3 linked regions of the Homo sapiens genome follow. The protein of the gene in region 1 interacts with the protein of each later gene in a biochemical or structural test. Each region holds a gene or a part of one and is shown on either strand. Other genes may lie near its edges.

Region 1 (8,651 bases):
ATAAAATATGTATAATGGCCATCTGAAAGGGACTTATGAAAAATAAGTGACAATACATGTAATCTACTAGGTATAGGAAATAGAGTAAATATTAAAAAACAGAAACCATTATTTCCTCCAATGATGTATTTTGTATTTGTCAAGCCAGAAGTTTGGGTACTGCTGTCACCTGTACTCCAAGACACCCTAGTGTCAAAGCCCTACAGTTGTTCGGACTAGCCTCTGAACAATAGGGAAAAATCATGGCTCAGATGCTCGTGGATGGGGCAAAGTGGTGCAGGGATCCACATTGTCTCACCCCAAGCCTCTGCTCCCCATGTCATCTCAGAGCAAGAACCCAATACACAAAGAAGAGCTGTTTCATATCCCAGAGTGGCAGGATTAGACCTTCCTTTGCAGAATAATTATACCTTACCCCCTCAACTGAAATAGACCTCTGAGGCCTGGAAGGGGGACATACATTTGCCAGAGGTCACCCAATACGTGGGGAGGCAAAGCCAGTGCTGAGATCACCTGACTGTCAAGCCTGTGCTTATTCCCCTTCACCCAGGCTGCTCCCCTCCTGGGGGCTGTGGCCTTCTCTGAGAGTTTCCTTGTGCAATCGCAGTGGGACGAGTGGGTCAACAGGAGAGCCATGAGGTTGCTCATATTCCTGCCCCTTTCTCCACTACTCAAGTCTGCCCTGCCCCCAACATGTATGTCTCCAGAGAATGCTATTCACCCAAACCTCTGACACCATAGTATGAAGGACTTAGTGTATCTTGCCTCCTCATTCACATCTTAAAACAGAAATCTGGAAGAGAATATTGCTTAACCTAAAGGAATGCTACTTCATGGAGGAATCTCAGGCATAAACCAGTGAAATTCTAAAGAGCAGGAGTTTCGCAGCATCTGTAACATCATCCTTTCTATGTGGTGTTGAAAAGATATAGATTCCTGGGAAACATTAATGAGAAGGAAGTGGGGAGCTGTAGTTGCAGCCATAAGGGTTGGCTGGTCACACTGGTAAGGCCGACAGTAGCCAGGTCAGGACTGATGGTGGATTGGAAAAAAAAGACCTGCTTATGGTTTATGTAATGTTTATTTATTTTTTGTGTTTTGTGTTTTTCCTGGTCCTTGGCCAAAGGCAAGATTTCCATATTTCCATTTCCTGGTGAAAAGGAGCTGGCAGCACTGGGGCTGATTATTGGATTTGTAATATGAAGCCCTAGCAATGTGCCTCCTGTTTCCTCCCCCCGCCCTGCTCTCTTTCACCATGGGACCGTTTCCCCTCTTCACTGGAGAGAAGAAGTCCCAATTCTACATCCATTTCCCCAAAGCATCCAGGAGCCCAGAAGTCATAGGAACCAGAAACAAGTGGAGCAGAAGGAACTCTTTATTGGAAAGTGGATGAGAGAGGCAGCTCCAGCCGTGGGCATCCTGAATGGGAGGAAGAATGGACAGTGTGGGAAGGGGAAGGGCAGCAGGGACTTAGGACCAGATGGGGCCTGTAGCTCTGGGGACGGCACAGGTGCAGCAAGGACCGGCTCCCTCTGTGGAAGAGAAGAGTATCAGAGGTGAGAGTCAGCACATCAAAGCACTCAGAGGCAGTGAGGAAGACAGATCATCCTTCTAGGCACTCTGGTTATAGCCTCTCAGACCCCTCAGTCTCCCAGTCTTTCTGTCACCTCCCACAACCTCCCTCCCACCAACCTGGGATGCTTCCCCACCGCTCAGCCTTCTTTTGTGTCTTCAGGGGTCTCCTCGTTCTCCAGCTAGTGCTCACCTCACTGGGGAACGAAACAGGCCATCCCGCAAGAGCCTTCACAGCACTTCTTGATTCCTGGGCAGTCAGTATCTTTCAAGCAGCGGTTAGGGGGATTCAACATGGCGCACCGGATCAAGATAATGGGGCAGGAGCCAGGCTTAGTGGAGACTGGACCTTTGACTGGCTCTTGCGCTTTGACTTTATCTTGACCTTTAACTGAAACTTGTCCTTTAACGGGATCTTGTCCATTGAATGGAACACGGCCTTTGACAGTGTCTTGACCTTTAACAGGAACTGTTAAAAGAAGAAACGAGCCCACATTTATACCCAGTAAGCCTCTGCTTCAGCTGCCATGTCTTTCCTCTGGGTCTGGGTCCATCCACTGCTTACTGCAGCATCCTCAAACCATGGCCTGAGTAGGGAAGGTACACCTCTGGGAGCTACACTCTTGGAAGGCTCTTCCTTTTTTGGGGTGGTCTACTGGACCAGAGTTCCCTTGAGTATTTGTTTCTTCCCCCTTCCTCCACTCCAAGTCTCTCAGGAGCAGTGGTCAGACTGGGGTGACACCCAGCAGTGAAGAGGACACATTGTCATTTGTTAGGAAGTGCATTGGAGTAGGAAAGAACCCTGAGCCACATACTAGGAGACTTGAGCCCCATCCTGGCTCTGGGAATTACCTTGGCAATTGCTCACTCATTTCTACATTTTTGGTTCCCTCCTTATAAAATGGGGGTCCTCAAACAACATGATTCCTGAAGGCTTGTTGTTTCTTAACCTCCTTTTAGAGTACTGATTACTCCAGTGCTTTTATGGGGCAGAGAAACGGGGGACTGTGTCCACACCCAAGGTTTAAAATCCTGGAGTTCATTATTTTATTGCACATTCTGCACAGGTATTGACATCTGAGGCCAAGGCCACATACCAACATTACTTCCACAAACAGTCCTGATATCTCAGTCACTGAGGTGGAAAGCACGTGGAGTCCACCAGCCAAAGTCCTATTTTTTCTGAATATGATGGCAAAGAACAGAAAGCTGAAATCTGGGCTCCAGTGCTGCCTACTGCTTCAGAAGTGCTCCCTGTCCTGGCCCAGGGTGTCCCAGAGGGTCTCCCCTTAGTCCAACCCAGCCCAGCAGGTCACCTGTTCACTCACCTCCCGTGACAGCTGCCTCTAGAACCAGCGTCCCAGCGATGAGGAACACCACCACGATCAAGAAGCTGCTGGCCCTCATGGTGTCAGGAAGGTGTTTGGCTAAGAGCTAAGGCCATACCAATCTTTATGCAGTCCAGCTTGGCCTGGCTCCAGGGGCGGGTCTGTGGTATTTACAAGGGATAATTCCTTAGCTGTATTGGGAAATATCCACCCCATTCTGGGAGGGACCTGGGGGCTTTCCCTCAGGATTATTCACAGGAAGAACTAATGGACATTACATCACATCATCTCTGATTGTCCCAAGAGTTTTCCTACTTTCTCACAGAGTAGAAGTGCTGGCTCACTTATTAGGTAACATTACAATGAAATTCTTCATGTTTTGAAATACAGTGAGACCCAAGAAGAGAAAGGAATCACCGAAGGTTATTCAGCAAGTCACTGGTAGATCCAGTCTTGATTACAAAACCAAGGTGTTTCTCCATTATGCTCTGGTGCTACAAACCCCACCCAGATCTACTTTATCATTTTACCACTCCCAGCATCAAACTGGGCATTTCCTTCCTTCTTCCCTGGTCCTGCAAAAAACTCTGTAAGACAAATTTGCCTTGAATACATAATGACTAATTATTGCACTTTGCTGTTTCAGAGACGGCCTTTCAGATGCATCAAGAAAGTAATTGGAAGGTGGAATTCTAGGTCTGAAGAGGGATGATGCCCTTGAAATCACAGTGGTAGGGAGAAAATAATCAGAAAGTAGTAGAAAACATGTATCATGTATACATTGGACATCTACAGTGTGTGTGTCCAGCATGCCTCCCCACTTCTTTGAACAGCACCCTGTTTCTTGTGAAGAATTGTTGTCTCTTTGAACCATCAACTTGTGAGTCTAATGGGGACTGCTAATCATGAAAGCCTGACCCCTGACCACAGGTAGGGGTGTGTGTGTGTGTGTGTGTGTGTGAGTGTGTGTGTGTGTGTTGTGTGTGAGACTTGGTCTGGTCTATTAACATATTTTATTTGAATGAGTAATGAAAGGGGAAAACGGGGGTTCCTTCTTCTGGAAAAGGTGATATATATGAACCAGGGAATTCCAGAAGTGGTTATCTAAGTCTGGGGGTGGAGATCAATTGTCTGAGAAAAACGACTCTAATACACTGAGACAAGGAGAGAAGTGATGGTGAGAGAAGATTCAGATGACACAGCCAGGTTTCCCTCCTTTACCTTGAGAGCAGTTCTTCACACACCCTTCTCATGGTTGGGTTATGAGGCAATAAATTAGCCCTCTGCTTCAGCTAGTCTGACTTACTATTCTGTCATTGTTACCAAAAGTTCTGAGTAATAGAAATGAATATCCTGAAGTTGGGTATTGTCAGGGACAGAATCTGAGTTAAGAAAGTCACTGAGTTGAGGTGGAGTTAAGGCAGGGAAGGTAACAAACTAATTATTGGACACTAATTCAGCTGGTGAAATCCCCACCCCTTGTCGATTTAGACTCTGACCACATGCCCACCAAGCCTGAAACTGAGGGAGACATAAACGAATGTCAGACTGTGGAAGCCTTTGGCTACCTTACACAAAAGCTCATTGTACAATAAGCCATACAAACAAATAAAAAGCTCACAGAAAATACCTATATTCTTTAAAGAATAGCATTAAAATGAGCTGCCAGGTAAAGGAGGAGAATATTTGCTATATCTATGCTCCATGCCTCTCCTCAGTTGCTTCATTCTCCTTCCTCCCCAGAGATAACTGCTTCCTAAGATTTTATGGTAATTAGCCCTTGCTTTCCTTTATAGTTATGCCACTTCTGTCTGTATTCTGAAATATATATTCAGTTTAGTATACTTTTTCAATTTGTATGTAAATGAAATCTAAGGTATAGTGTTCATATGTCCTGCTTATGTTGCTCAACATTATATTTTTGAGAGTCATCCATTTTGAAGTCTACACCTGTAGTTCATCATTTTCACTGCTGTACAGTATTCTATGAAAAATACCAAAAATGTTATATATTCATTCTACTGTCAATATACATTGGATATTTCTAGGTTTTAGCTATTATAGTGTTGCTATGAATATTCTTGTACATATCTCTTGCAGAACATAGGTATGCATTTATTTTGGATATATGGTTAGGAATGGAATTGCTGGATCACAGAGTACAGATCACAGAGTATAGATACATCCAGCTGTCATAAATACTGCAATCAATTTTCCAACATCATTGTACCAATTCACACTGCTATCAGCAATGTGTGAGCATTCCATTTGCTCCATAATCTCACCAATGCCTCATATGATTTGCCTTTTCATTAGCCATTCAGGTGGACATCTTGTGGGATTTCCTGTGATTTGAATTTACACTTTCCTAATAACTGGTGAAGCTGACCCATTTTTAATACTCCTTTTTTTTTTTTTTTTTTTTTTGAGATGGAATTTCGCTCTTGTCACCCAGGCTGGAGTTCAATGGCACAATCTCAGCTCACTGCAACCTCCACCTCCCAGGTTCAAGTGATTCTCTTGCCTCAGCCTCCCAAGTAGCTGGGATTACAGGCACATGCCACCATGCCCAGCTAATTTTTATATTTTGCAGTTTCACCATGTTGGTCAGGCTTGTCTCGAACCGCTGACCTCAGATGATGCACCTGCCTTGGCCTCCCAAAGTGCTAGGATTACAGACATGAGCCACTGCACCCGGCCCATTTTTAATATTTCTATTATCCATTTGGCTATCCTCTTTTGTGAAGTGCCAATTCAAGTATCTTACCTTTTATTTACTTATTTATTTAATTTCAACTTTTATTTTAGATTTGAATGGGTTGTTTATCTTTTCTTATTGATTTGTAGTAGAAAAGAAACTTTTATGCATTACTAATGAGAGTCTATATTGGTGAAACATTTAAAAACAGTTTGACATCAGCTAGTAAAATTGAATGTGTACACAATCTATAATTCAGCAATTGCACTCCTAAAGATTTAATTAAGGAAAATATTTCCACATGTTTACCAAGAAACATGCACAATAATGTTCATAAAAGTACTGTTTTTAACAATAACATACTGGAAACAGTCCATGTTACCAATACTAAAATACTGGATAAATATGTCATGACATATTAATGCATAAATATGTCATGACATATTAATGCAAGGAAGTATTATACAATTATGAAAATAACTGAATTACAGCCATGCACAATATGACCATAATTAAAATAATGTTGAATAAACAACACAAGTCCACAGTGACAATATTTAGAATTACCCACTTGTCATAAAACTCAAATGAAGGAGAACTGGGAAATATATTGCCTAGGCATATTTACATATGAAGCAAAGCTCAAAAAGGGATACATAAAAAATGAAAAAACTATAAAAATGACATACAAGATAGTGGCTAACTCTGGAAACGAGAGAAGAAAACATTCTGGATGGGTGAGAAGGACACGGGTTGATTTAAGTTGTTGGTTATTAGTAATGTTCTAGTTCTTTGATTGCTTGGAGAGAGAGAGAGAGAGAGAAAGCTGCAGAGCGAATCATTTATAGACTACCTTAGCTTTCAATAAACCCACATTGCTACCCTCGCAAGTTGTTTCCAATATTTTGCCATTACAAACTATACCACATGTGGCCTTTCTTAGCTTGCTTTCTTGTGAACCAGATTCCCAGAAGTATATTTGCTTATACAAAGGTGAAATGCATTTGAAATTTTGATAATATTGCCATATTTCCCTTGATAGGGGTTGTACCATATTGTAATCCCACCAGTAGTGGATAAACTTGCCTGCTGTTTCCATCAAGCCTCATGAACAGACTGTGTGTCTAATTTTGGGGTTTTATTTTTAACTTTTATTTTAGTTTCAGGGGTACATGTGCAGGTTTGTTGTATAGGTAAATTTCATGTCATGGGGGGGTTCGTGTGCAGAAGTATTTCATCACCAGGTAATCAGCATAGTACTCGATTCGTGTTTTGATCCTCACGCTCCTCCCATTCTCTACCCTCAAGTAGGCCCTAGTGTCCATTGTTCCCTTCTTTGTGTCCATATGTACTCAATGTTCAGTTTTCATTTATACGTGAGAAAATGTGGTATTTTCTTTTCTGTTCTTGTGAAAGTTTGCTTAGGATAATGGCCTCCAGCTCCATCCATGTTGCTGCAAAGGACATGATCTTGTTCTTTTTTATGACTCGTAGTATTCTATGGTGTTTACATACCACATTTTCTTTATCCAGTCTATCATTGATGAGCAATTAGGTTGATTCTATGTCTTTGATACTGTGAATAGTTCTGTGATTCACATACTACATGGATGTGTCTTTATGATAGAATGATTTATATTCCTTTGGGTATATAACCATTAATGGAATATCTTGGGTTGAATGGTAATTCTGTTTTAAGTTCTTTGAGAAATTGCCATACTGCTTTCCATGCTGGCTGAACTAATTTACATTCCTACCAGCAGTGTATAAATGTTCCCTTTTCTCTACAACCTTGACAGCATATGTTATGTTATAACGACTGGTGTGAGATGCTATCTCAATTACTGTTTGGATTTTCATTTCTCTAATGATCTGTGATGTTGAGCATTTTTTCATTTGTTTGTTGGCAACATGTATGTTTTCTTTTGAGAAGTTTCTGTTCATGTCCTTTGCCCACTTTCTAATGGGGTTGTCTGTTTTTTGCTTGTTAACTGGTTTAAGTTCCTTATAGATTCTGGATATTAGACCTTTGTTGGACACATAGCTCACAAATATTTTCTTCTATTCTGTAGGTTGTTGGTTTACTGTGCTGATAGTTTCTTTTGCTGTGCGGAAGCTTTTTAGTTTAACTAGGTCCTATTTGTCAAGTTTTGTTTTTGTTGCTATTGCTTTTGGCATCTTCATCATGAAATATTTACCAAGTTCTACGTCCAGAATCATATTTCCTAGGTTACCTTGCAGGGTTTTATAGTTTTATGTTTTACATTTAAGTCTTTAATACATCTTGAGTAGATTTTTGTATATGGTTTAAGGAAGGGGTACAATTTCAGTCTTCTGCATATGGCTAGCCAGTTATTCCAGAATCATTTATTTAATAGGAAGTCCCTTCCCCCATTGTTTCTTTTTTTGTTGATTTTGTTGAAGATTAGATAGTTGTAGGTTTGCAGCATTAATTATTTCTGGGCTCTGTAATGTTCCATTGTTCTAGGTATCTGTTTTTGTACCAGTACCATGCAGTTTTGGTTACTGCAGCCTTGAAGTATAGTTTGCAGTCAAGCAATGTGTCACCTCCCGCTTTGTTCTTTTTGCTTAGGATTGACTCAGCTATTCAGGCTCTTTTTTGGTTCCATATAAATTTTAAAATAGTTTTTTCTACTTTTGTGAAGAATGTCATTGGTAGTTTCATAGGAATAGAATTGAATCTGTAAATTGTTTTGGGTAGTATGGCCATTTTAACAATATTGATTCTTCCTAACCATGAGCATAGGAATGTTTTTCCATTTATTTGTGTCATCTCTTATTTCTTTGAGTAGTGGTTTGTAATTCTTGTTGTAAAGATGTTTCACTTCCTGGGTTAACTATATTCCTAGGAATTTTTTTCTTATTTGGCTATTGTTAATGAGATTGCATTTCTGATTTATCTCAGCTTAGATTTGTTGGTATATAGGAATGCTGCTGACTTTTGTGCATTAATTTTGTATCCTGAAACTTTTCTGAAGTGGTTTATCAGATCAAGAAGCTTTTAGACAGAAACTATGGGGTTTTCTAGGTAT
Region 2 (4,853 bases), on another chromosome or scaffold:
GCTGGACTTCAGGTCTTACCACCTCTGAATCTCCTAATTGTTTCTGCTTTCCTGCAGGTATGAGGATGAAATCAACAAGCGGACAAATGCAGAGAATGAATTTGTGACCATCAAGAAGGTAAGCAAATTCTGTAGGACGGAACTCACATTTGAAATAAATAAGGGAAGAGGGTCTCCAATTACTAAGCAGAAAGCAGCCATGATATGGAGAGCCAGGTAGTAGACCTGGGGAGTATATGGAGTGGGGCTATATTTTCACATCATCATGGACCTGGACTGATCCAGGCACTTGGCTTCTCCATATTTCCCAGCACCTTACATAGTAAGTGGAGTGGCAGATTCTCAGCAAGCCAGGCACACTCCCTTGATGGTGCTATCCGGGGGTGGGACAGTTAGGGAACTGTGATTTACCTGGGGCAAAAAGGAGTGGAGTAGACCCAAAGCTCCTTTTTTTGCTTGGAGAATCCCCTCACAGGTAATGAGAGGGACCTGCCCTGGAGAGAATGTGCCTTCATGATGTCCCTTGTTCCTCTAGGATGTGGATGGTGCTTATATGACCAAGGTGGACCTTCAGGCCAAACTTGACAACTTGCAGCAGGAAATTGATTTCCTTACAGCACTCTACCAAGCAGTAAGTCTTCCAGTTTCAACCAAGTTTATCTAAATGGAGAGTTTTTAAGCCTGAACCCACAACGATTCAGAAGAATAGATATTTATCTTTTATTTTCTGACTGCTTTCTCTGTCTAAGTTGTTTTTTGTTTTAGTGCTGTAAGAGTCACTAACCTATTATGTCTTGCAGGAGTTGTCTCAGATGCAGACTCAAATCAGTGAAACTAATGTCATCCTCTCTATGGACAACAACCGCAGTCTCGACCTGGACAGCATCATTGCTGAGGTCAAGGCCCAGTACGAGGATATAGCCCAGAAGAGCAAAGCTGAGGCCGAGTCCTTGTACCAGAGCAAGGTGAGTGGGCTGAAAGCCTAGCCAGTTTCCCTGAAATGGCTTGTCTTGCTATCCTGTGTTATCTCATGTATGTGTGCCTGTGCCATGCTGAGTTCTGCCTACATTTAACAAACGCTATCTACCATCTTTAGTATGAAGAGCTGCAGATCACTGCTGGCAGACATGGGGATAGTGTGAGAAATTCAAAGATAGAAATTTCTGAGCTGAATCGTGTGATCCAGAGACTTAGATCTGAAATCGACAATGTCAAGAAGCAGGTATGTGCTTTCTCCTTCTACCACTCAGCTGTATGGAATGGGGGTAACCCTCAGGTAAAGGGCGAGTGCTTTCCTAGTTTTGAATCTTGCAATTCATCCCAAGGCTACATTATTATCCCTGGTTCCTTTTGTGACTATGCTAGTTTCCAGAATGCAGCCATCATGCTGGGTTCTCTTTAGGGAAATCTGTGAGAATGGCCTAGTAGAGAAAGATGGGATGGTCAATGTGAGTGATCTAGCCTATGACCCAAAGTGGACTTAAGAGTTGGGGAGTGAGAGGAAGGGCAGCCAGGAGGTTTTAGAGTAGGTGTTTAGAAGAATGTCAAGTCTGTAAGGGTTGTAGGAGCCTTGACTCAGGGCCAAGAGAGGCTGTTGAGTTATCCCTAAGGTCTTTTAAGGAAGTCAACATGGTGATGTGTTATCTGGAGGTGGGTGTGAGATGACTTAAGGCCAAGTGGTTCTGTTGGACTCATTATTGGCCTCACTGGAGTGGGGAGACCAATTGGGATGAGGAGGCCTAGTGGGGAATGCATATTATGAGAGGGTGTCATATTCTTTTTCAGATCTCCAACTTGCAGCAGTCCATCAGTGATGCAGAGCAGCGTGGCGAGAATGCCCTCAAGGATGCCAAGAACAAGCTGAATGACCTGGAGGATGCCCTGCAGCAGGCCAAGGAAGACCTGGCCCGCCTGCTGCGCGACTACCAGGAGCTGATGAACACAAAGCTGGCCCTGGATCTGGAGATTGCCACCTACAGGACCCTCCTGGAGGGAGAAGAAAGCAGGTGAGGAAGGGACGCTGGGAGTCGAACCTCTTCTCATGGTCTTCCTTCCTTGCAAGCTGATTGTTGTTGAAGATGCAGCCATCTGATTGCAGCTTGTGCTGGGTATGGGGAAATGAAAAGTACACGGAGCAGGAGGAAGGACCTAGTTTTACTTTGGGAGCTGGAGTCCCAAGCTGTTTATTTTTTTCTTCTAGGGCTGTAACATATCTAGAAAGAGCTTTGAGGTGGAGCAAATTATTCTTTATCTGGGCTGCCTCAGATGGCAGCTGGCCTAAAGTCGGCATCTTTAGAGGGGGCCTTCATTGGCTGCAAGGCTCTTGTCTCGTTTATATGGGAATTTCTCCGTGTTTGTACTCTTGCTGAGAAAAAATGACAGGTCTGGGAGGCCAGAGGGGATTGGATTAAGTTTCAGATTAAGTGCATTGGAGAAGACCCAGATGGGGAAAGTCTTCAAGGTGGTGGAGCGGGGAATGGGGAAGCGGTTTGGGAAGCTGGAGTGTCCTGAGGAATTTTCTTATTTTCTCCTACAGGATGTCTGGAGAATGTGCCCCGAACGTGAGTGTGTGTAAGTACAAGTCGATTTCTCAGGGGCATGTGCAGGCTTTGTTGGGCTGGAAACGGAGTTGAGGTTGAAAATAACTGAGCTTCCTCTTGCAGCTGTGAGCACAAGCCACACCACCATCAGTGGAGGTGGCAGCCGAGGAGGTGGCGGCGGTGGCTACGGCTCTGGAGGTAGCAGCTATGGCTCCGGAGGTGGTAGCTATGGTTCTGGAGGTGGCGGCGGCGGCGGCCGTGGCAGCTATGGCTCCGGAGGTAGCAGCTACGGCTCCGGAGGTGGCAGCTATGGCTCTGGAGGTGGCGGCGGCGGCCATGGCAGCTACGGCTCCGGAAGCAGCAGTGGGGGCTACAGAGGTGGCTCTGGAGGCGGCGGCGGCGGCAGCTCTGGCGGCCGGGGCTCTGGCGGCGGGAGCTCTGGAGGCTCCATAGGAGGCCGGGGATCCAGCTCTGGGGGTGTCAAGTCCTCTGGTGGCAGTTCCAGCGTGAAGTTTGTTTCTACCACTTATTCCGGAGTAACCAGATAAAGAGATGCCCTCTGTTTCATTAGCTCTAGTTCTCCCCCAGCATCACTAACAAATATGCTTGGCAAGACCGAGGTCGATTTGTCCCAGCCTTACCGGAGAAAAGAGCTATGGTTAGTTACACTAGCTCATCCTATTCCCCCAGCTCTTTCTTTTCTGCTGTTTCCCAATGAAGTTTTCAGATCAGTGGCAATCTCAGTCCCCTGGCTATGACCCTGCTTTGTTCTTTCCCTGAGAAACAGTTCAGCAGTGACCACCACCCACATGACATTTCAAAGCACCTCCTTAAGCCAGCCAGAGTAGGACCAGTTAGACCCAGGGTGTGGACAGCTCCTTAGCATCTTATCTCTGTGCTGTTTTGGTTTTGTACATAAGGTGTAAGCAAGTTGTTTTTCTTTTGTGGAGAGGTCTTAAACTCCCCATTTCCTTGTTTTGCTGCAATAAACTGCATTTGAAATTCTCCATGTCTCGATCGCCCTTGTTTACGGCACTGTCTAACCTGGATGGGTGTTTTGTGAGGTAAAAGAAGACACTAGAGCCACATGGCATATGGGAAAGTCATGCACACAAACATGAGAAAAATGCAGAGGCCAACCAGGCAACATTTCACCAGACTGGAATCACAGAGAGAGCAAGCACTTTCCCAGATGGTGGGGATGTCATGGAGAAATGGAGAGACCGGGTGACAGGTTTTGTTCATTTGAGAAGGCTTTCTTGAAAAGGGCAGTGAGCAAGCAGGTTGGGAGGAAGAGGTGTGGCATTGAGAAGAAGGGAAAGTATTGCATGAAAAAGTAATTCTTCACGTGGAACAGCCAGTAAGGAGGGGCATGAGTAATATAGGGTCAGCAGTTACTGGAGCCAGAATACAGACTTTGGCCTGGGGAGTTCAAGAACTAAGAGTGGTAATAGAGAGTTGGATATTCCATTTCCCTTCTCTTTTTGTGCCACCACCCAAAGCTCTGCATAATCTAAGAAGTTCCCTTGTTGACACATAGCTCATACTTGTGAAGTTGTACAACAGGATAGCATAGTGGCCAGAAGCATGGACAGTTGAACTCAGATATGCTTGGGTTTGAATCTTACCATCACCATTTACTAGTTCTGTAATACAGTGCAAGTTACAGACATCTCTGCACCTCAGTTTTAGTATGTCTAAATTGGGGATGATAATGCCTTCCTTGTGGGAATAGTGTGAGGATTGAATAAGATGAATACACAGGGCTGAGCACACAGCAAGCACTAAATAAGTGCCAGTTTTAATGATAATGGTGATGATGATGATGATGATGATGATGACGTAACATTGCTTGTGGGACTCCATACAGCTCAGTAGATGCTTGCTCAAAGAAGCAAGTTACCAAAATTTTTGTAATGGTTCTCTGAACGTGAAAAAAGCAGTCAACTTCTCTGAGGATCAATTTCCTTAGTTTCCAATTAGGAAAAGTCTTCTTAGCTCCAGAGTCCCACAGGGCTAATGGAATAAGGAGAGGATAGATCACACATGTATTATGCAAACACAACTCAGGTGAGCTCTATTCTTCCTTCTCAGTTATCCCTTCTGTAGGGACCCCAGTGTCCCCTGCTGTCTTTCTGTGTCCTGACCGGGAAACACAGTGTGCCTTGTCTACTCCATCACTTGGCCAGCTGCATGCTTTCCTTTGCAGGCTTGAAGCAAAGCTGGGTCTCGGGCATTCTCAGGCACTGACAAAGCTGTTTAGTTGTTGCTGGGAAACACTGGGAAATAGCCCTTTTGTTAAACACACAGAAA
Region 3 (8,922 bases), on another chromosome or scaffold:
AGTGTCCAAGCCCAGGCAAGCATGATCCCTGGATGCACTGCTAACCCTGTGTGCATCTATAAGCTGTTTGAAAAGGTCTGAACAACTCATCTGTGGTCCCCACCCTCAGCAAAATGATGGGCTCCAGGAGCACCCAAAAGAGGACCAAGTAAGAGTCAACACTGCCTGATAACACCCCAGGGGGCTATAAGTGCTCTTTAAATCCTAAGATGCAGAGTTAAGAACTAATAGGGAGCCTTCCTTCAAGGACAATTATAACTTGAAAAAAGAAACAAGTCAAAGCGATGTGTCATTAGCAGACCGTAACTAGTACAATTGTTCCTTAAGGCCTTGGAAAGGGAAAGTGGTGAGGGAGATGGAACCAGTGGGTGTGATGAATCCAGGGAAGCTTCCTGGAGAGGGAACACCAGTAGCCACGAACCACTGCAGAGCTCTCCTTCTCCTACCCACCTCTAAGCAGTTCTCCCCATGTAACACCGAGGATCAGCCACCCCTTCAAACTGTTGGCCCAGAAGGGCAGTAGAAAGGAGGAAAATGGCAGCCCAGGAGGTACCTGGAGTTCTGTGACACTTCCTGGGCCAGGACTGTGAGAGAAAACTGTTCCCATTCCAAGTCAACAGTACAAAGGGCTTCCAAGCACTACTCCTGTCCTGCCAAAGCTCCCAAGCCCCTGTCCTGTGTTCATTTTATTCTTTACAGCCACCTGCTGCCCCTTTAACCTGTTAGATAAGTAGTCAGCACTCAGTCATGAGAACCCATGTGTGTAGCTCTGGATACTTCAAGGTTGTGATGAGCATGCTTCCATCCAACTGGGGCTCACCAAGCTCAAGAAATGAAATCTCAGACTGGGGCCCAGGAGCCAGGTGCCTCTACTCAGAGAAGCAGCCTTCTCAGAGTAGTTTGCAGCTGCTCTTTCCTAAATCCCCCCAACATAGCTTGTTAAGATGGCCAAGCTGTGCATCACAATGCGGGAGGCCCTCACACTGTCTCCTCTACCTGCTTCTCTCTTGCTCTGAAGATGCCTGTAGCAGGAAGATGTGAGCTTCCCACAAAGATAAGCTAAGCTGAGATGCAGAAAGAACAAATCTCCAACTTTTTTGTGATTTATGAATCAGAAGCTGGGTTGTCTCCAAAGGATGCATCTGTGATTGTGGATAAGCCCCAATGTGTCCTTAACACCCTAGACTGCCACATCTTTCTGAAGAATCACCACCCTTCACACACACACACACACACACACACACACACACACACACACTTCCTATACGGGGCCTTCCCATCAGATAGATATTGTGAGGGTGGTCAGGGAAGCAGGCTAAAATTCCACTAGCCCAGTGTTAGCCCAGTGTCACTTCTATAGCTGGCCTTGGATCCCCTGCACAAGGCTTGTTCATTCTGCACAGTGGCTAGGTTTAATCTGTAGTTCCATGCTGAAACCCTCCACTCCTCATCATCTGACAAGATCATCTCTCAACCGCAGTCAGTCAATAGGTCTCAAGAGTTCCTTCAATTCCACTGGGATTTACTGAGCACCTATTAATGCCCAGCACCATGCCAGGCACTGTGTAGCATCTGCTTTAAGGACCATCCCCTCTAAGGATACAAGTATAGGCAAGAACCATGTCCTAATCTGTCAAACTGCAGAAGTCAAATGTGCTATCAAGCACACCTTGCAGGGTTAGGTGTCTAAAGGCTATAAACCTTAAAAATCTGAACTGCCAAGTCTTACAAAACCCCAAATACCTATGTGTCATTCTACAATTCTACAAAGTCCCATTATTTCCTCACTGATATGATAAAAGGTGATAATCAGTTGCTGCCCACACAGATATCCCATTAGGACTACTGCTTCTGCTCCAGAAAGATGAAATGAGAAACCAGGTTCATATATTCGTATATCAGGCAAGGTTAACTCAGGGCTGAAAGCCACAAGATCTGGTACTCAGTATCATGTCACATCAACCTCTTCTGCATGTTAACGAAATATTTATACTAGTTACAAGTTATATATATATATATATATCTCTACAGATATATCTCTATATATATGTAACTCTATATATATATAACTTGTAACTAGTACACATATTTAGTTAACATGCAGAAGAGGCTGATGTGACATAGTTATATATACATATATGACTATATATAGTCATATATGTATATAAAACTATATATAGTCATATATGTATATAAAACTATATATAGTCATATATGTATATAAAACTATAGTCACATATGTATATAAAACTATATACAGTTATGTATGTATGTAAAACTATATACAGTTATGTATGTATGTAAAACTATATACAGTTATGTATGTATGTAAAACTATATACAGTTATGTATGTATGTAAAACTATATACAGTTATGTATGTATGTAAAACTATATACAGTTATGTATGTATGTAAAACTATATACAGTTATGTATGTATGTAAAACTATATACAGTTATGTATGTATGTAAAACTATATATAGTTAAATATGTATATCCTTTCTTATTAAATGCTATATAGGGTGGCAGAGGCAGGCATGGGGCACCATCCCCACCCGCGACTCTACCAAAAAGACCCATGCATAGCTTTGGAAAGCCTTCTGGCTCTTTGATGCTTAACATGGTGCCCAGTACATTTGTTTTGGCTGGATTAACAAATAAAGAATTAGCATCTTAAAATTAATAGAAAAAAAAACCCTATATTTCTTAGAAGAAAATGAACCCCCCAAAGCCAACATGGACAATTTGAAGATTAGTCATTTTGGGTCAACTGTACTTTAGGTTCCCGTTTTGTTTATTTTTTGAGACAGGGTCTCACTCTGTCACCCAGGCTGGAGGGCAATGGTGCAATCTTGGCGCACTGCAGCCTTGACCTCCCAGGCAGAAGCGATCCTCCCATCACAGCCTCCTGAGTAGCTGGGACTACGGGCACATGCCACCATGCCCAATTAATTTTGTTTATTTTTTTGTAGAGATGAGGTCTCACTATGTTACCCAGGCTGGTCTCAAACTCTTGGGCCCAAGCGATTCTCCCACCTCAGCCTCCAGAGTAGATGGCACTACAGGCGCATGGCACCACACCTCGTTAATTTTTGTATTTTTTGTAGAGACAGGGTCTTGCCATGTTGTGCAGGCTGGTCTCAAACTCCTGGGCTCAAGCAATCCTCTCACCTTGGCCTCCCAAAGTGCTAGAATTACAGGCATGAGCCACTGTGCCCGGCCTAGTTCCCAAATTTTAGAATTCCATGGAGAAGTAATATCTCCCTCAGAAAAAAGTGGTAATCATTACACCATAGCCAAATTTTCATTTTGACATGGCAGGACATAAAAGAAACAACTACAGCCTCATGTCACCACATCTTTTAAAGGAAGAGGTAGGAAGGCCATGATTTCAGAATTGAAGACTTTCTTTCCCAAGAATACCCTGCTGACGTCCTTTTACTTACACTTTTGCTAAGGACTGGTGAACACATAGCAATGGGCCAACAAGGGACCACACATATCAGTACTGGGAACCGTCGTCCACACGTGCTCCTCTTTCCAATGTGGCCCAGCTAAATAAAACTGTTCTTTCTTATACCCACAGCAATCACTAATCGCGGCCTGTTTCCCTCCAAATTCTCCACACTGCCTCAACTTCAAGCAGAGAAACTTGCCTTCTCCAACAGATCCTGTCTTCTCCCTACTGGGTCTCCTCTAAGGAGGAGAGCACCTGAGTTCCTCTTGGGTTCACCTGGGTTTATGCTGTCCAAACTGAAACTAGTGCCACAAGTTTCTGATGGCCACAGTCTAATCAGGATCATCTGGATCATTAAAAGTGCACTATAATTAAGAATTTATTATTGGAGCTGTCATTTCAAAACATAACTGGGCAGAACAAAGTTTGACTGTGGTATCTTAAACAATACCAATTGACTTCCGGTTATGAAAGAAGCAGCATCCTGTTCTGCATGCGCAGAGGTGATGCTACTGGTCCAGAGTCAACAAGAAAGTTTTGAGTTATTCTCCTAGGAGAAGAATTGGACTTGCCCAATCCCTCCATGGACTCCTTTCTGGCCTTGGTATCCAAGGGAAGGCCAGGTTGGAAGTAAGGATGTGCTGTTATATGAGAAAACAACAAAAAAGACAGCATCACCTTCTACACTTAACATAACTATTCTCCCTTCACATGCCTGTGAAATAGGTACTACTATTTTTATTTGATAGACAAGGTAACTGAGGGTCAAAAAGCTTGATCATTCCACAGTCAATAAGTACTTACTGAGTGCCTCCCATGTGCAGGTACTGCACTAAGAGCTATGACTCTGCCCAAGGTGACACAGCTGGCAAGTAGCAAAGGGAGCACCCAATCTGTCACCTAATCTCAAGTCTATCCCATTCAATGACTGCCCCTCAGGCTAAGGTCAGTGTTTTGCCACACAACACCACAGGACAACAGAGCCAAAGAGCCTTTGTGGGATCACATGGTCCATCTCTTTAGTTTGCTCTGCTGCAAGGAAAGTCAGTATTGATTACCCTTCTCAGACTGTCTCAAATGCCTGCTGTCTCTGGGGATGAATCAAAGTAGCTTCCCACGTCACATTAGTTACAGCACTGTCTATGGTGTGCAGTCCAGAGCTGGGTGCTGGGGACTCATGCCTCCAGTGGGCAGGACAGAAACACCCCAGCAAAACACACATGAAATCCTGGGAGATAAACTTTTGCAAAGGAGTAACGGGTTCTAAAGTTTTGAGGATTTTTAGAGTAGCAGGACCAGAAGTCAAACAGTAGGATTTAGAAGGTCCTACTCCTTGGATAAAGCACTGAGATCTTCAGTTTGACTCTCTTAGGGCACCTCAAGACTCTGGGACCTATTCCTCAAGCACAGCCCTGTGGTCACCTGGTATGCATCCTGTGCCAGAGGTTTTGGAAACAATGTCTGCCATCCACTCTGACTGGGTGACCCCACTGATGAGCCTGCCACACTGTTGCATCAGAGAAGGGGCCAGTCACACACCAGGCTGCCCATCTCAAGAATGCCAAAACCTTCATGAATGGGCCATCCTGTGCCTGCAATCACAGGGAGGTGGGGCCGACAGCCACGGGTCACGTAACTGAGGCCAAACACAAGAAGCTGGCCTGGATCAATGAGTCAGGGAGAGCTCTATATATAACCTCAGGAGATCAGTGCTCCTCACATTGCCAGCATCTTCTCTCCTCACTCACCCTTCCTGGTGCTTTGGGTAAGTGTGGTTCTACTGACTCTCTCATTTTCCCAGCTGGTCTTGCCCAGGCCTGACTAGATTAGATGGACCAGGGCCTCTTTCCCCTTTGGGAGCTATAGGACCTCTGCCTTCCCAAAAGCACTCACATTTAGAGGGCGGTCAGGAAAGGAGCAGGGGATGAGCTGCTGCCATGCAGATGGTGTTTCTGGTCTTCTGGCCAGAATGTAAACTCCACAAAGACAAGACTATCTCCTGCCTCTCTGGCACCCGCATAGGGGCAGGCATGGTGCCGGGCACAGAAGGACTCTGCAGAGGCTGTCCAAGGCAGCCTGTGCACAGGCTGAGCAGACCTTGTGAACCTGTCAGGAGGAGAGGCTGAGCCACTCTCAAGAGAGTAGGGAGAATGATCCAAAAAAGTTGCAGATGGGAGGGATTTCAGGTGCCACAGAAATCCAATTGCTGTTTTACAGAGTTAGAAGTTCTGAGAGGGAAATACAACTTCCTACTAGTCAAAGTCCCTTCTACCAAACTTGGACTTGAGAAAATCATGGAAGAGATGGCTAATAGCTTCTGGTCGGGGATGTTGGTCCAAAGGACCACCAGGGTCCTTCCCCTGTTTCCAGGCAGGGCCACAGCAGAGCCTGTCTTTTCTAGTGACTAGCCCTTGGTTCATGGCCTAGCTCAGTGGGACAGACCAAGAGTTTGAACTAAGAGCTTCTGCAGAGGATGGAGTGCAACAGCCCTCAATAGAATGAAGTCCGACAAACCTCTCTCTGTTGTGCTGGGAATGGGTAAAATCTCCTATCCTAGGTAGAGGTTTGTGGTAGTTTTCTATTTGCACTCAGAGAATCAGTGTTGAGATTGGAAGAGGCCTGAAAGATGAAGTGTTCAAACCCTTTCATTTAACAGGAAATGAGAAAGAGGCGGGCGTGTGGGTGATCTGCCCTCAAATCACACAACAGTGGTCAGAGGCAGAGCTGGGAGAAAGAATGGGCACTGCTAACTGGGCTGTTTAAAGCATAATGAAGGCTTTCTGCAGGGGAATGAGGAACTCAACTTTTCCAAAAGCAGCAATCATAAGAAACCCCGCTGAGGGCTCTCCGGGCACCTGAAGGAGCCCTGGGAGGATGGCGATGTTGCCTATGGATGCAGCTGCCTCCGTAAGTATCCTCTTGCAGCTGGTCCAGCGATGCTCTCTTCTCCCCTTCCAGGCTCTCCTTCCTTCTCAGACAAGATGTCTTATCAGAAAAAGCAGCCCACCCCTCAGCCCCCAGTGGACTGCGTGAAGACCTCTGGCGGCGGTGGCGGTGGCGGCGGCAGCGGCGGTGGTGGCTGCGGCTTCTTCGGCGGCGGCGGCTCAGGGGGCGGTAGCAGCGGTTCTGGCTGCGGCTACTCCGGCGGCGGTGGCTACTCTGGCGGCGGCTGCGGCGGGGGCTCCTCCGGCGGCGGGGGCGGGGGCGGCATTGGAGGCTGCGGAGGGGGCTCCGGTGGGAGCGTCAAGTACTCCGGAGGCGGCGGCTCCTCCGGCGGGGGCTCTGGCTGTTTCTCCAGCGGTGGGGGCGGCTCCGGCTGCTTCTCCTCCGGTGGCGGCGGCTCCTCCGGGGGCGGCTCCGGCTGCTTCTCCAGCGGTGGGGGCGGCTCCTCCGGGGGCGGCTCCGGCTGCTTCTCCTCCGGCGGCGGCGGCTTCTCGGGCCAGGCGGTCCAGTGCCAGAGCTACGGAGGCGTCTCTAGCGGCGGCTCCTCCGGGGGCGGCTCCGGCTGCTTCTCCAGCGGCGGGGGCGGCGGCTCTGTCTGCGGCTACTCTGGCGGCGGCTCTGGCTGCGGCGGAGGCTCCTCTGGCGGCAGCGGCTCCGGCTACGTCTCCTCGCAGCAGGTCACTCAGACCTCGTGCGCGCCCCAGCCGAGTTACGGAGGGGGGTCGTCCGGCGGCGGCGGCAGCGGCGGAAGCGGCTGCTTCTCCAGCGGCGGGGGCGGCGGGAGCTCCGGCTGCGGCGGCGGCTCCTCCGGGATTGGCAGCGGCTGCATCATCAGTGGCGGGGGCTCCGTCTGCGGAGGTGGTTCCTCTGGAGGCGGCGGCGGCGGCTCCTCCGTGGGTGGCTCCGGGAGTGGCAAGGGCGTCCCGATCTGCCACCAGACCCAGCAGAAGCAGGCGCCTACCTGGCCGTCCAAATAGATCCCCCAGGGTACCACGGAGGCGAAGGAGTTGGAGGTGTTTTCCAGGGGCACCGATGGGCTTAGAGCTCTCATGATGCTACCCGAGGTTTGCAAATCCTTCATGTCTTAACCTACCTGGAAGAAGCCATTGAGCTCTCCGGCTGCATCTAGTTCTGCTGTTTAGCCTCTTTGGTTTCTGTACAACTACCTCCCAACCCCAGTGCCTCAGTCAATAAATTTGCAAATTCATGAGAATTTTTAGGTCTCCAAGAGTATTTGTAGTGTTCAAGTTCATCCATTCCATTCCATTCTTCTCCTTTCCTGCATTCGCTCATTCACACTTACATTCATTTTACAAATGCACGGACTCTATTGGCGGAAAGGTGAGTGGATAGATGGGAGTCACCAGGAGAGGGAGGAATGGCTGGCAAACGAAGGTCAAACATATGAACATTCTAGTGTACGGCTTAAAATCATGACGTGATCCCAAAACACAAAGATCCTGAGGAGAGACTTCAGTAAACACCTCCCTGTGGATTGAGTAGCTACTGTGGGTCTCCTTACTGAACTCTGTTTTTTAAAGACAGGCTGCCCTGGAAAGACGCTGTCTCTCACAGTCCAAAGCCAATTCTGCAAGGTCTGAAAGCTGGGTGGCTGCACATTAGGAGCACCAGCTCATGCTACTCAGACTCACGGAGAAATAAAAAGCATATCAGATGTTTACGGGCCCCTAGGGTGAGCAAGACCACTTTAGTAGGTACCCGTAGGGAGAGGAGGTAGTAGGGGAGCTGTTTCCTGCTCTCTCACTCTCTCTCTCGTTTTTTTTTTTTTAATTTCAATCAGCTTTCTCGGGTTGAATGTTTCCTGCTCTCTTGAAGGAACTTTACCTAACTTAGGAAGATGCAGCATACATATACGAGATGTAAAAGCTTGGCACCAGAAAGAGGTCATGGAAAACACAAGAGCTTCCAATTAACAAGGAAGAAGCGACAGTTGCTCCAAGGGATGTATTAATTGCAGAGCCCTCAAAAGAGATGTAGAACATCAGCCTGGCCAGGGACTTTCCAGGTTCTGTTTCATATCCTGATTTTACCAGCTCTAGTTAAATGCCAATTTACTGATTTACTCAAGAAAAACTCCTGCTACGTCAAAAAGCCAAAGTACCCTTCCTACTCAATCACTGCTGGGGGGAAAAAAAGTCTTCCTCCTCAACTCTTCCATTTAGGATCACTACCATGCATCATTTTACATCGGTAATTCATGGAGATCAGAATAAATAGCAGTCTTAAAGATCCAGGAGCCCAACCACTGCATTACTTTCATGTTTTTTAACAAATGAAAGTCAGACTTTCAGTTCTGGACAAAATGAAGTAGATGTATTTCTTACTATCGCTCTTATGAAGTAGAACTAAAATCTCTGGGCATAATATATAAAACAAACATAAGAAGACTTTGTAAGCTGGGTGGCTGCACGTTAACAGCACCAGCTTATGCCGTAAACATCTGATATGCTTATTATTTCTCCGGTGAGTCTGGAGAGGACAAGGCAGAGTAGCTAGAGTC

Evidence for each region. The genes of interacting proteins can lie anywhere in the genome.
Region 2: the proteins of PI3 (region 1) and KRT1 form a complex in vitro, tested with the Homo sapiens proteins (one study listed by BioGRID).
Region 3: the proteins of PI3 (region 1) and LORICRIN form a complex in vitro, tested with the Homo sapiens proteins (one study listed by BioGRID).

The regions. Positions count from the first base shown.
Region 1 is NC_000020.11:45,169,251-45,177,901, reverse strand, and holds PI3 (elafin preproprotein), read right to left. Parts: upstream 3,001-8,651; 5' UTR 2,980-3,000; coding exon 2,901-2,979; intron 2,042-2,900; coding exon 1,767-2,041; 3' UTR 1,766-1,766; intron 1,533-1,765; 3' UTR 1,358-1,532; downstream 1-1,357. UniProt on the Homo sapiens protein: Neutrophil and pancreatic elastase-specific inhibitor of skin. It may prevent elastase-mediated tissue proteolysis.
Region 2 is NC_000012.12:52,673,428-52,678,280, reverse strand, and holds the end of KRT1 (keratin, type II cytoskeletal 1), read left to right. Parts: intron 1-57; coding exon 58-118; intron 119-535; coding exon 536-631; intron 632-800; coding exon 801-965; intron 966-1,096; coding exon 1,097-1,222; intron 1,223-1,785; coding exon 1,786-2,006; intron 2,007-2,536; coding exon 2,537-2,571; intron 2,572-2,663; coding exon 2,664-3,088; 3' UTR 3,089-3,545; downstream 3,546-4,853. UniProt on the Homo sapiens protein: May regulate the activity of kinases such as PKC and SRC via binding to integrin beta-1 (ITB1) and the receptor of activated protein C kinase 1 (RACK1). In complex with C1QBP is a high affinity receptor for kininogen-1/HMWK.
Region 3 is NC_000001.11:153,254,511-153,263,432, forward strand, and holds LORICRIN (loricrin), read left to right. Parts: upstream 1-5,176; 5' UTR 5,177-5,223; intron 5,224-6,416; 5' UTR 6,417-6,439; coding exon 6,440-7,378; 3' UTR 7,379-7,614; downstream 7,615-8,922.